2 linked regions of the Homo sapiens genome follow. The protein of the gene in region 1 purifies or fractionates together with the protein of each later gene. This does not show direct contact. Each region holds a gene or a part of one and is shown in the gene's direction. Other genes may lie near its edges.

The links. The genes of interacting proteins can lie anywhere in the genome.
Region 2: the proteins of DNAAF10 (region 1) and CCT3 purify together in Homo sapiens (affinity purification with mass spectrometry; 4 studies listed by BioGRID and IntAct, with this or other methods). This does not show direct contact.

What each region holds. Positions count from the first base shown.
Region 1 is NC_000002.12:68,154,311-68,161,575, reverse strand, and holds the start of DNAAF10 (dynein axonemal assembly factor 10), read left to right. Parts: upstream 1-4,048; 5' UTR 4,049-4,132; coding exon 4,133-4,315; intron 4,316-7,265. Other genes in the region: RNA-binding protein PNO1, read right to left, coding at 3,047-3,196, 3,435-3,641. UniProt on the Homo sapiens protein: Key assembly factor specifically required for the stability of axonemal dynein heavy chains in cytoplasm.
Region 2 is NC_000001.11:156,314,293-156,321,292, reverse strand, and holds part of CCT3 (T-complex protein 1 subunit gamma), read left to right. Parts: intron 1-267; coding exon 268-454; intron 455-2,275; coding exon 2,276-2,425; intron 2,426-3,745; coding exon 3,746-3,878; intron 3,879-4,045; coding exon 4,046-4,127; intron 4,128-7,000. UniProt on the Homo sapiens protein: Component of the chaperonin-containing T-complex (TRiC), a molecular chaperone complex that assists the folding of actin, tubulin and other proteins upon ATP hydrolysis.

The sequences.
Region 1 (7,265 bases):
CACCACCTTTCCCTAATATATTCTGTATGACACAGGTTCTGGTCAGATAAGTGCTGTACTTTATTTGCAAAACAAAACGTTCCCAGCTCCAAAGCTTGGCTGTTCCACCCAAAGAGTGTCAAATAACTAACCGCACTATATGATCAGATTTTGGGGTTAACAGCAAGACTCCTCTGGCACAACCCAATCTCTCCCATTCTGAAGAACCTCTACCTTCTGTCCATCCCTTCAATGCCCAATGTCCTCTTCTCTTCTCTCTCAAGGCAGTCTTCCCTGGGATTCCTGACTTAATCTTCTTAGTTATCATTTATATGCTGATGTTTCTTAAACCAACAGCTCCAGGCCTAACTACCTGCATGCACTGATTGGGGAAATAAAGAATGAATGAAGCACTGAACCTGTCCTCAAAGTTTATTTGAGAAATGCAGAAATAACTGTTATTCATAAAAAGCCTACCACTGTAAATAACACGTACTATAAATAACATGCTTTACACACCATAACTCTAACCTTCACAACAACTTTGAATGTTAAGTGATATGACTACCTTCGTATGTGAGGAAACTAAAGTACTAAAAAGCAAAAAAGGTAAGATTTAAACACAGGTCTGATTTCAAAACTGTTATTTCCACTGTCCCATGCACATTCACAGTCTAGTTGAAGAGACCACGTATTCAACAAATGTAAAACCATATGGGCTTGTGCAATGGGAGAGTCCCCAGAGCTTTCCCATTTAAAACTAGACCCTAGTTCCAATCCTATATGTGACCTTAGACAAGTCCCATAGATACTTTAGGTCTTGAGTTTTCTCATCAGTAAAATGAGGAGGTCAGAGTAGAAGATCCTGAGTGTTCCCTACTAGTATAATAGAAAATTTCCCTTATTAGACTGATGACTGTGGCCAAGTTTCCTCACATCTTTAAGATGGGAATATCCTGAAGACTAAATGATGTAGAGCATGGTGTAATACCACTGTGTGTCTGGTATATGGCAGCATCAACAAATGTTAGTGGAATCCAAAGTGATTATCCTGCAATAAATAGGACAATAAAGCACATGAAAAGTTTAGGCACTGAAGATATGACTGAAAAATGGACATACCATAACAGAGAAAGAACTTGAGCTAGACCCGGAAAGATACTGGAACTGAAGTATAAAGAGAAAGGAGTAGGGAGGAGCGGACCTCTTTCAAAGGCCAAAGCCACCAAAAAGTATGGACATAAACAAACTTTATGATCCGTGAGAGACAAACTTGTGACTGAGTCTCCTACTTGAAAAGCAAGTTAAGTCCAAAACTTTTTCCTTTAGAAATGTTGAAGATGCTCACGCCTGTAATCCCAGCACTTTGGGAGGCAGAGGCGGGTAGATCATGAGGTCAGGAGATCAAGACCATCCTGGCTAACACGGTGAAACCCTGTCTCTACTAAAAAATACAAAAAATTAGCCGGGCGTGGTGGTGGGTGCCTGTAGTCCCAGCTACTCAGGAGGCTGAGGCAGGAGAATGGCATGAATCCAGGAGGCGGAGCTTGCAGTGAGCCGAGATTGCGACACTGCACTCCAGCCTGGGCAACGGAGCAAGACTCTATCTCAAAAAAAAAAAAAAAAAAAAAATTTTTTTTTGTTTTTTGAAGATGCCAGGATGTCATAAAAGCATTGTGATCTGGGAAACTTAATCTGGCACTGGCAGATGGATGAGTGGAGAAAGGAGAGACGTCAAACAATGAAGCAAGGGAAACCTACAACGAAACCACTCCTTGGCAGGAAACCATAAAAGCCTGAATGAGAGAATGGCAACAGGGACAAAGAGGAGTTACTCTATCATGTTCTATGATATTTTACACTTTATCAACTATTTAGAATAGTGCCTTTCTTTGTTCCATTATTATATTCCATTAACAGAGATGAGACTATACCAGTCCGGATGATGGTAAAAGAATCCTTAAAAAGGAAAATATAATTAATTTCGGTTATCGATTCTGGTATGAAATTGGCACCCAGAAAAGAAAGCCCAAAGTAAATTTAAATGTCTAATTCCCGGATTGATAGCACAGAATTTAAAATATATACATAGGCTCGGTGGGGCAGCTCACGCCTGTAATCCCAGCACTTTGGGAGGCCGAGATGTGATCACCTGAGGTCAGGAGTTCGAGACTAGCCTGGCCAACATGCTAAAACCCAGTCTCTACTAAAAATACAAAAATTAGCCAGGTTTGGTGGCAGGCACCTGTTAACAGTGAGCCAAGATCATGCCACTCACTCCAGCCTGGGTGAAAGAGCAAAATAAAAAGATATATATACACACACACACACACACACACACATATATATGCATGTTTCTTATCAAAATAATACATTTTTTAATCAAAAGAGCACCATTAAAACACAGTCATGCACTGCATAATGACATTTTGATCAGTGACCAACCGCTCATACCATGGTGGTCTCATAACAGTATAATGGAGAATATACAGAAACCTGATATATGGCACTGGATACCGGCAATGCAGATCAAGTAGATGAAATGACTGATATTCAGTAATGGTGCTGGGACATTTGGTTTTCCATATGAAAAAAATATATAAACAAATATACACATACCATCTAGGTTTGTGTAAGTACACTCTATAATATTCGCACAAGGACTAAGTCATCTGACAAAACATATCCCAGAACATATTCCCGACGCTGACTGTATATACTTCTTGTAAAGCAGCAAGTGCTTATATTCATTATTTACCTGCTTCTGTTTATGGCAATCTCTTTACTCGACCTTTTCTCAATTTGACATAGAACATTATAAAAGATACACAGAAGAAGAGCCAGTATTTTGGTGTGATCTCAGAACTAATTTACAAATTCAATTAATATTTGTATCGAATGCAGATTTTTAAGGCATTTGGGAAGTTCAAACTCAATATGGTAAATTTTTAAACTGGACAAAAACCATACAACAGAAAAGTCCCATTAAGTAAAGCCTATTCATGCCTTTTCATCTCTGTAGGAGAGAAAGCCTGGTGTATTGGGAAATGATTGAGATTTTCCTTACCCTGATTTCTACATTCCTTGATTTCAAGTTAAAGCGTATCTGAAGTCCCAAATGTTCCACAATAGGAGTAAATATCTTCATCCAGTTTTCTTTCAATGGTGTGTATCTGTTAGCTGGGACTGGAATTTTCCTTGTTTCTTCTTTCCCACTCTGTAAATAAAAGAACACACAACTCAGAAGGCTATGGAGGGACGGTGATGGAGTTTAAAATGACATCTGATCCACAAAGGGCCTCCTTTAACTGAACTAGTTACACTTCAAAGAATCACTTCTCTCTGAGCATCACGGCAGAACAGCCCCACCGCAGCTTCAACATTCTCCAGAGGCCATCGGCTTGATCCGCGTCTGGCCCTTGCCTCGTTGCTGTCCTAGGGTCCCAGCCACATACCAGGAGCCCGTCCCCACAGAGGGGTGGGAAGACGGGCCTCTTCGCCGGCCTGGCCTCCTCTGTGTCCATGCGGCCCGCATCCCCGCCCTCTCCTGCTGCGGACAGCTGTTCAGCCTGTCGTTTCTTCGCCCGTCGGCCACCCTTGCGGGTGACCTGGGTAAAGCCCTCCTCTGCCCTGGCGCTCTGCGTTTCCATTTCGGATTCCATCCCCGGAAATCTTAAAGCGCTGCCGGCTGAAACACGTGCGCAGCTGCACCACGCAGAAGCCAGCCTCAGCCAACCACCCCTGCAGCTCCGCCCCTTTCCTAAAACGTCACAGGCCGGGGACCTGCAGGATTTGGGGCCGGTGGGGGGGAAAACGGGGTTAGGCTGTCCTAAGATATGCCTGATGGTCTTGGGCTCACTCCAGCCGCGCAACTCCCAGCCCAAGTATTTTGTAATCTCTAGTATGTATGTGTGCGAAAGGCAGTGGGTAAAGGCGATAAACAAATTCGTGCTGTTGTGAAGGAACATTCTGTGCGATCGCAGGAGCGCATCTGGCATTATCCGGGGATAACTACAGCCAACATGCCAGGGCATCTGGGGCAGAATACGGAAAGCGGGAGGGACAAATTGCCAATGTTTGGAGTCTGGTTTCCAGGTTGCCGTTTTTGGGGGCTCTGGGTGTGGCGGTTGCCGTAGCTGAAATTGGCTGCACCATGTCGGCCTTCGAGAAGCCTCAGATCATCGCCCATATCCAGAAGGGCTTCAACTACACGGTGTTTGACTGTAAGTGGGTGCCCTGCAGCGCCAAATTTGTGACCATGGGCAACTTCGCACGGGGCACCGGCGTCATTCAGCTGTACGAGATCCAGCACGGGGACCTGAAGCTGCTTCGGGAGGTGGGTGCCGGGTCGAGGATCCGGACTGCCGTTGGGGGCGAGTGCGGATCCTGGGGTCTGCATTCCTCTTTGCCAGAGCCTTCGCCCAGCGTCCCCCAAAGCATGGCTTGAGCCGCGCGAGACCAGAGAAGCTGACCGCCGACTGAGGAATGTTTCCTATTTAAAACCTTTCTTCTCATCCGCGGGGTAGTTCCTCCGCGCCCAACCGTCCTGCCACCCCCAGTGCAGTCCAGCCAAAGCGGGCACCAGGATGCCTGCAGTGTGGTTGGAAGAGGCAACCTAACACATTCGACAGGCATCAGCTGAGTGCCTGGTATTCCCAGGGATGTGAATGGTAATGTCCCCCATCTCATGGAGTTTATTTTCTAGTGGGAGAGATACTCAGTTCAATAATCAAAGCAACGATACATAAATACAAACCGAGATGAGTTGTCTCACACAAAGGAACACGGTTACGGTTCAATGAGAGTGAAAACAGATTTGGGATGAATGAAAACAGATTTTGGTATGTGCAGAAGCTAACTAGGTCAAACTAGGAGTAAAGGACAAGGTTTCCAGGGCTTCTGCACATGCAGAAGCTCAGTGATGGGAAGAAGTTTATCTCCTTAAGAAACTAGAGGGATAAGCAGGAACCAGACATTGCAAGATCTGTAGGACATTCAAAGGATTTATGCCTTTTTTCTAAGAAAAAACGGACACAACTGAAAGGATTTAAGCAGGGTGTGGAAAGATTAGGTTTGCAAGGTTTTTTTGAAGATTACTAGTGAAAGAATTAGAGAATAATGATAGTAACTAGCATTTTATAGCTGTTTATAGTTTTTAAAAAGTGTTGATTTTGTTACCTGAAAAAATGATCAGTCATTATCAGATCAGGGTTGTAATAGACTACAAGTGCAGGGTAGGTTAACTCTGGGGATCAAAACCTATGGAGAGAATCTGCTTGGAGGAGGTAGGGATTAAACTGGTAGATAAAGGATGAATACAATTTGGACTGTTAAGCCTAGAATAGAAAGTATGTAAGACCCCATCCCGCTTTAAGTTTCCCTGAATGACAAACATGAAACATGGCTTATTTTTTTCTACCTTTCCTTCGTTCCTTGTATTGTTCATCACTTAGCTTCTGGTAACCAGTGGCTTTTTTTTTTTTTTTTTTTTTTTTGAGACAGGGTCTCAATCTGTCACCCAGCCCGGAGTGCTGTGGTGCAAACACAGCTCACTGCAACCTCCGCCTCCCCACCTCAGCCTCCCAAGTAGCTGGGACTACAGGTGTGTGCCACCACACCTAACTAATTTTTTTGTACTTTTTATTTTTTTATTTTTTATTTTGGTAGAGATGGGGTTTCACCGTGTTGCCTAGGCTGGTCTCCAACTCCTGGGCTCAAGCAGTCTGCCTACATCGGCCTCCCGTAATACTGGGATTACAGGCGTGAGCCACCAAGCCTGGCTACCTGTTGCTATTCCAATGTTCAGTTCAGATTATCTAATGTATGATGCCCTTCCTGATTTCTACACAAAGTAAAATTTCTTTACATTGCATTTTGGGTTGTTTTTGTTTTTTGTTGTTGTTGTTTAGGGATGGCGTAGCTCTGTCCCAGTCCGGAGTGCAGTGCTACTGTCATAGCTCATCGCAGCCTGGAACTCCTGGGCTCAAACCATCCTCCCGCCTCTCCCTCCCAAAGTGCTGGATCAGGTGTGAGCCACCATTAAAAAGAAAAGGTATTTAAAGGATTTATTCCTTTTTCTTTTCTTTCTTTCTTTTTTTTTTTTGAGACGGAGTCTGGCTCTGTCACCCAAGCTTGAGTGCAGTGGCGTGATCTTGGCTAACTGCAACCTCTGCCTCCCAGGTTCAAGCGATTCTCCTGCCTCAGCCTCCCTAGTAGCTGGAATTACAGGCACATGCTACCACGCCCAACTAATTTTTTTGTATTTTTAGTAGAGATGGGGTTTCACCATGTTGGTCAGGCAGGTCTCAAACTCCTGACCTTAGGTGATCCACCCGCCTTGGGCTCCCAAAGTGCTGGGATTACAGACATGAGCCATTGCACCTGGCCATTTATTCCTTTTTCGAAGAAAAATGGGACATGATTGAAATTTTTTTTTTTTTTTTGAAACAGGGTCTCACTCTTGCCTACGATGGAGTGCAGTGGCAGGATCAGGGCTTAGACCTGTGACTTTTTAAAATAAGAACAGGCCTGGTGCAGTGGCTAACGCCTGCAATTCCAACACTTTGGGAGGCAGTGGGGTGGATTGCTTGAGCCCAGGAGTTCAAGACCAGCCTAGGCAACATGGGGAAACCCCGTCTCTACTTTTTGTATAAAAAAAATACAAAAATTAGCTGGGCATAGTGATGCGAGCCTGTAGTCCCAGCTACTTGGGAGGCTGTGGTGGGAGGATCTCTTGAGCCCAGGAGGTCAAGGATGCTGTGTTCGCACCACTGCACTCCATCCTGGGTGACAGAGAGACCCTGTCTCAAAAAATAATAAAATGAAAATATATGATTTGTATGTATTTCAAAAGTACACTTACTCCATCAAGTGGAATAGAGTAGTTTGTCTTTTGTAGCGACTCTGGGGAATTTCAGCAAATTTTAAAAAGATAATTTTCTTTTGTAGCAAAAATAATATGTGTCCACGATAGAACATTTAGAAAATAGGAAAACGAAGAAAATATCACCCATAATCTCAATGCCAGGAATAACCACTAAGTGTATTTTCACGCCGGGTGTGGTGGCTCACGCCTGTAATCCCAGCACTTTGGGAGGCCGAGGCGGGTGGATCATGAGGTCAGGAGATCGAGATCATCCTGGCTAACACGGTGAAACCCCGTCTCTACTAAAAATACAAAAAATCAGCCGGGCGTGGTGGCGGGCGCCTGTAGTCCCAGCTACTCAGGAGGCTGAGGCAGGAGAATGGCTTCAACCTGGGAGGCAGAGCTTGCAGTGAGCCGAGAT
Region 2 (7,000 bases), on another chromosome or scaffold:
CAAATTATTTTACTATAATCTTTGTATGTAAGTGTAAAGGGTTGCTCAGGGAATTAAGGCACCGTCTACAGATGAGTTGTAATCTTGCTGAAAGGCAGAGGAATGGACAAAGGTTACCTCCTAATGTCCTTTTAGTTTCCTCCAAAGGAACAAATCCCCTTGTTCTGCCTCTTGGTCCATTATTATAGTCACTGAGGTATAGATAAGGCACATCTCTACATATCTAACATGCCTTCTTCACATATCGTCTGGTTTTCTTTTCTCTAGTATCCCAGTCGACATCAGTGACAGTGATATGATGCTGAACATCATCAACAGCTCTATTACTACCAAAGCCATCAGTCGGTGGTCATCTTTGGCTTGCAACATTGCCCTGGATGCTGTCAAGATGGTACAGTTTGAGGAGAATGGTCGGAAAGAGATTGACATAAAAAAATATGCAAGAGTGGAAAAGGTAAACTTTCAAAGTGTATACATTGGGTCAAATTATATGTTAGCATGAGTCATCTCACTTGTGAGGAAATAGTCTGTTTTTCATGCCGTTGTTTTGTTTTGTTTTTGAGACAGAGTCTCACCTTGTTGCCTAGGCTGGAGTATAGTGGCACAGTCACAGCCCACTGCAGCCTCAAACTCCTGGCCTCAAGCAAATCCTCTGATTTGCTAGGACTACAGGCACATGCCACTGTGCCCAGCAAATTTTTTTTCTTTTTGTAGAGATGAGGGTCTCATGTTGCCCAGGCTGGTCTTGAACTCCTGGCCTCAAGTGATCTTCCCACCTCAGGCTCTCAAAGTGCTGGGATTATAGGCATAAGCCATCATACCCTACTTGAATGAAATAGTTTTAAATCAGAGCAAGGTATGTTTTTTGTTTGTTTGTTTTTTTGAGATGGAGTCTTGCTCTGTCGCGCAGAGGCTAGAGTGCAGTGGTGCGATCTCGGCTCACTGTAGCCTCCACCTCCCGGGTTCGAGTGATCTCCTGCCTCAGCCTTTAAAATAGTTGGGATTACAGATGCCTGCCACCACGCCCAGCTAATTTCTTTTTGTATTTTAAGTAGAGACGGGGTTTCACCATGTTAGCCAGGATGGTCTCGAACTCCTGACCTCAGTGATCTGCCCACCTTTGCCTCACAAAGTGCTGGGATTATAGGGTGAGCCACTGCGCCTGACCAAAGCAAGGTATCTTTAGTTAGAACTAGGAAGAACTATACTTGCTGCCTGGAAACAAAAACCTATAAGAGGCTACCAAGTAGGAATTTCTTCAAATAGTTTTGTTGTTACCTTCACTGCTATCCCTACACAAGGTTTATGAGGACAAGGGACAGGCTTATTGGTGTCTCCATGTTTGTGTATTTGCATACATCAGTCATTTGGTCAGGATATAAGCTTAACAAGGGCTCTATTATGTAGTGCTATTAAAATAGTAAGCCCCAGAAAGCTTTCTCTCCTGTCCACTAAATTTCATTAAGATCCAAAAGTTTAGTAGTATAGCTTGTGGCCAGTAGATGGAGCCCCAAGCCTAAAATTCTCTGGCAATATATTTATTTTTTTAATTGGAGAGACCTAAGCCCTTATTTATTTATTTAAATAGCAATTGGGTCTCAATGTGTTGCCCAGGCTGGTCTCGAACTCCCGGCCTCAAGGGATCCTCCTGCCTGAGCCTCTTGAGTAGCTGGGATTTTAGGTGTGAACCACTGTGCCTGGCTCATAAGCCCCTCTAAGTCTTTTGTCAAGTCATTGAATTTCAGTGAGTCTCAGCAGACCTTCAAGTTGAGTGTCATGGTCTAAAATTGGTGTATTTCCTAATGGGAAAAAAATGTGATTCCAATAATATTTTTGAGCTTCATCAAAGAAAGGTACTTTAGAAACCTGAAACACTGGGCCGGGCGTGGTGGCTCATGCCTGTAATCCCAGCACTTTGGGAGGCCGAGGCGGGCGGATCACGAGGTCAGGAGATCGAGACCATCCTGGCTAACATGGTGAAACCCCATCTCTAGTAAAATACAAAAAAAAAAATTAGCCGGGTGTGGTGGCGGGCGCCTGTAGTCCCAGCTACTTGGGAGTCTGAGGCAGGAGAATGGCGTGAACCCGGGAGGCGGAGCTTGCAGTGAGCCGAGATTGCACCACTGCACTCCAGCCTGAGCGACAGAGCGAGACTCCATCTCAAAAAAAAAAAAAAACCTGAAACACTAGCTGTTTGGGAAAGATGAACATCTGGGAAGGAAATTAAGAAATTGTCTCTTGATTGTGGATTAAAGTGCAGTTGTCTTTTGTTCAGATACCTGGAGGCATCATTGAAGACTCCTGTGTCTTGCGTGGAGTCATGATTAACAAGGATGTGACCCATCCACGTATGCGGCGCTATATCAAGAACCCTCGCATTGTGCTGCTGGATTCTTCTCTGGAATACAAGAAAGGAGAAAGCCAGGTAAGGTTCTTGGCCTTGTTCCTTAAAGTAGATGCAAGAATCTGACTGCAAATATGAACAACAGAAATAAAACGTATGTTTATTGCATGCCTTCTGGGTGCATAGTGTACACTGACTCTTAGAACAATCCTTTAGAATAGTTGGTATTGATTTCATTTTACAGATGAGGGATCTGAAGCTCAAACAAGTTAGGTTAATTGCTTGAGGAATACAGCTAGTATTGGCCAAAATCAAGATTTGAACCTGGTTGTGTTTGGCTTGTTTTATACGATCATGCTGCCTTTCCTAATGCACCAGGGGAACATAAGGTAGGAGTTAATTCAGCTTTGAAGTACTAAAGGAGAATTTCAGCTTAATGCAGTGGCTCACACCTATAATTCTAGCACTTTGGGAGGCTAAGGCAGGTGGATGGCTCGAGCCCAGGAGTTCAAGACCAGCCTAGGCAACATGTCGAATACTGTCTTTATTTAAAAAAAATTAATTGGGCGTGGTGGCATGTGCCTGTAGTCCCCACTACTTGGGAGGCTGAGGTGAGAGGATTGCTTGAACCCAGAAGGTCAAGGGTGCAAGGAGCTGTGATCACGCCACTGAACTCCAGCCTGAGCAACAGTGAGACCCTGTCTCAAAAAAAAAAAAAAAAAAATTCTAGAGGGCAGGAGGCTCACAAGGCTCCATCACATTTGGAAAGAATAAGAATCAATTAGTGGGAAGAATTAAGACCCAGGATTTTCCTGCACACTGCCAGGACAGATGTAGGATTGGACTGGGTGGTCAGAGACCTTAGAAAGGCCAAACTCAACACTAATTACTGTGTGACTTTCAGTTCTGGTTGTTTTATAATGATATAACTGGAGCTGGCCGGGCGTGGTGGCTCACGCCTGTAATCCCAGCACTTTGGGAGGCAGAGGCGGGCGGATCACGAAGTCAGAAGATCGAGACCATCCTGGCTAACGTGGTGAAACCCCGTCTCTACTAAAAATACAAAAAAAAAGTTAGCTGGGGGTGGTGGCAGGCACCTGTAGTCCCAGCTACTCGGGAGGCTGAGGCAGGAGAATCGCTTGAACCCAGGAGGCAGAGCTTGCAGTGAGCCAAGATCGCGCCATTACACTCCAGCCTGGGTGACAGAGCAAGATTCCGTCTCAAAAAAAAAAAAAAGCAAAACTAAAGCTAAATTGGCTTACAGAGGTGTTGAGGTCATGGCTTTAACATAATTCTGACTCTGAGATACGTGGGAGAGGTGGGTGGAAGGAGTATAATATGACCCTTAGAGCTTCACCAGTCCAGGGATTTTAAAATCAGTGTCTTTTCTTTACCACACAGACTGACATTGAGATTACACGAGAGGAGGACTTCACCCGAATTCTCCAGATGGAGGAAGAGTACATCCAGCAGCTCTGTGAGGACATTATCCAACTGAAGCCCGATGTGGTCATCACTGAAAAGGGCATCTCAGGTGGGACTTTGTTACTTTTTCCAGCCTACCTTTGAGGTAGACGAGGGTGGGTGATTTGTTTTCTCCCCTCATGTTTGGCAGGGGCGTAATAGTGTCATGGTTAAGAGTACTTTGATTATAAAACCAGTTCAGAACCCAGCTTGACATCTCTACTCTTGGATTTGTAGATTTAGCTCAGCACTACCTTATGCGGGCCAATATCACAGCCATCCGCAGAGTCCGGAAGACAGACAATAATCGCATTGCTAGGTGAGTAGGCCAGGTAAAAACAAGACTTTTCTTCCCGTGTGTTTCCTTTTTGTAGTTGCGTAACAGTCATCATTACCTGAAAAGGTTTAATAAAGGATATAGTAACAGGTAGAAATAACCTTGGCTTAGCTGCCTGCCCTCTTCAGAAGTCCTCTAGTCCAACAGTTATTTACTGCGTGAGTCTCATCTGTACTGCCCCTAACCATTAGTGAGCAGCTTGTGCTTAGACATTTGTAATTGCTACCTTGGTGGGTGTCCGTTACATTTCTAAATAACTGCCTATCTAAGAGGTTTTCTTTAATGTCATTATGATGATTTTTGAATGAACATTTCCAGAGTATCCTAAGTGGCCTGGATTATAGCAGAACCATCAGTTTCCTCAGCTACATCCTTAGCTGCGATTTATGCGATTCTAGATTGCATTCACTACTTCTGCACTGATGTCTGTGCTCATAGACCATTCTTTTTAATAGACAAGGTCTTGCTGTGTTACCTAGGCCTGTCTCAAACTCCTGGGCTCAAGCAGTCATCCTGTTGTCAGCCTTTCCAGTACCTGAAACTATTGGCATGCGCCACCATGCCCAGCAAAGTTCATTCATTTTTAATTTATCAAAAAGCTGACAAATCTACCCCAACATAATATATCACAGATCCAAATCATATTTTATACTTTTATACCCCAAAGGGTATTAACATGCATACACATAGTTGACTTCACATGGCCATGAGTTGGAGGGAGTGACAAGCAATTAGTCCTACATTCATTAAACTTCGGTCAGACGTATGCAGTCATCCCTTGATATCCACAGGGCATTGGTTCTAGGATCCCCGCCCCCTTGAATACTAAAGTTTGTGGATGCTTAACCCTTATATAAAATGGTATGGTATTTGTGTATAACCTATACACATCCTTCTATACACTTTAAATCACCTTTAGATTGCTTATAATGCCTAATATAGCATAAATGCTATATAAATAGTTGCTATACTATATTGTCTTTAAAATTTATATTATTTTTTGCCGTTGTATTATTGTCCATCCCCCCACCCCACCCCCCCTGCCATGTTATCAGTGCATGGTTGGTGGAATCTGGATGCGGGACCTGCGGATATAGAGGGCCAACTCTACTTACATGTTTATTCGCCTTCCTCCTTGCTTGACCTTTGCATCTTTGGTACAGTCTTTATTATTCGCCTGGAGACTCAACTGGGCAGTACAGGATGGGTTATATCTAGAAGTTACCATTATATAGTATAGACATGTTAATTTTTTTCTTTTATCTTTCTTTTTTGCAGGTTCTAATTCTCTAGTTGAAATATGTACATGTTAGATATGCATGAGAACTAATTTGTCCAGATTTTAGTAACCACAAAGTATATTTTGAATTCAACTATATCTGGTTATAGTAGTGATGACTAGTTGCCTTAAGTGTACAGTTGACCCTTGAACAACTTGGGGGTTAGGGGAATCAGTCCCCAAGGAGTTGAAAATCCATGTATAATTTTTTGACTCCCCCACTCCTAATAGCTGACCGTTGACCCGAACCCTTACCAATAACACAATTAACTATCACATATTTTGTATATCATATGTGTTATATACTGTATTCCCTTAAATAAAGTAAGCTAGAGAAAATGTTATTAAGAAAATCATAAGGGCAGGGCACGGTGGCTCATGCCTGTAATCCCAGCACTTTGGGAGGCCAAGGCAGGTGGATCACCTGAGGTGAGGAGTTCAAGACCAGCCTGGCCAACATGGTGAAACCCCATCTCTAATAATAATACAAAAATTAGCTAGGTGTGGTGGTGCATGCCTGTAATCCCAGCTACTCGGGAGGCTGAGGCAGGAGAATTGCTTGAACCAAGGAGGCGGAGGTTGCAGTAAGCTGAGATGGTGCCATTGCACTCCAACCTGGGCGACAAGAGTGAAAGTCCGTCTCCAAAAAAAGAAAATCATAAGGAAGAGATAACACATTTACTATGCCTTAAGTGGAAGTAGATCATCAAAAAGGTCATCATCATCTTCATGTTGAATAGGCTGTGGAGGAAGAACGGGCTGGTCTTTCTGTCTTGGGTGTCAGAGGCAGAAGAGTGGTAGAAGGGGAGGCAGGATGGGCAGGAGGCACACTCAGTGTAACTCAATGGAAATACATCGTGATTTGTCTGACTTCTGCTTTTTTGTTTCTCTAAAAATATTTCTGTATAGTACCAGTCCCTCTTCCACTGCTTCAGTTTCAGTGCCTCTATCATAGAAGGGTCCATATCATAAAAGAAGTCAAAAGCAGTCTTGAATAATCAGAAGCCTTCTGCCAGATTGTCTAATGTCAGTTTGTTTTCTGGCACTGCTGCTTCTACATCATCTTCCTCATCGTCTGGCACTGCTTTGGAAGCAGTCGTCTCCATCAAGTCATCTTCTGTTTGGTTTTTTTTGTTTTTATTTTTTATTTTTTTGAGATGGAGTTTCGCTCTTGTCGCCCACGCTGGAGTGCAGTGGCACAATCTTGGCTCACCACAACCTCCGCCTCCTGGGTTCAAACGATTCTCCTGTCTCAGCCTCCCGAGTAGCTGGGATTACAGGCGTGAGCCACCAAGCCCAGCTAATTTTGTATTTTTAGTAGAGACGGGGTTTCTCCATGTTGGTCAGGCTGGTCTTGAACTCCCGACCTCAGGTGATCCACCCACCTCAGCCTCCCAAAGTGCTGGGATTACAGGCGTGAGCCACTGCACCTGGCCTGTCATCTTGTGTTAATTCCTCTGATGTAATGTCTGTTAGCTCTTGAGTTTCTCCAAGATTCATATCTTGAAACCCTTCACCACCGCTATGCCAGTTTTTTTAGCCACATCCACAGTCTCTTTCATGATTTCCTTGATTG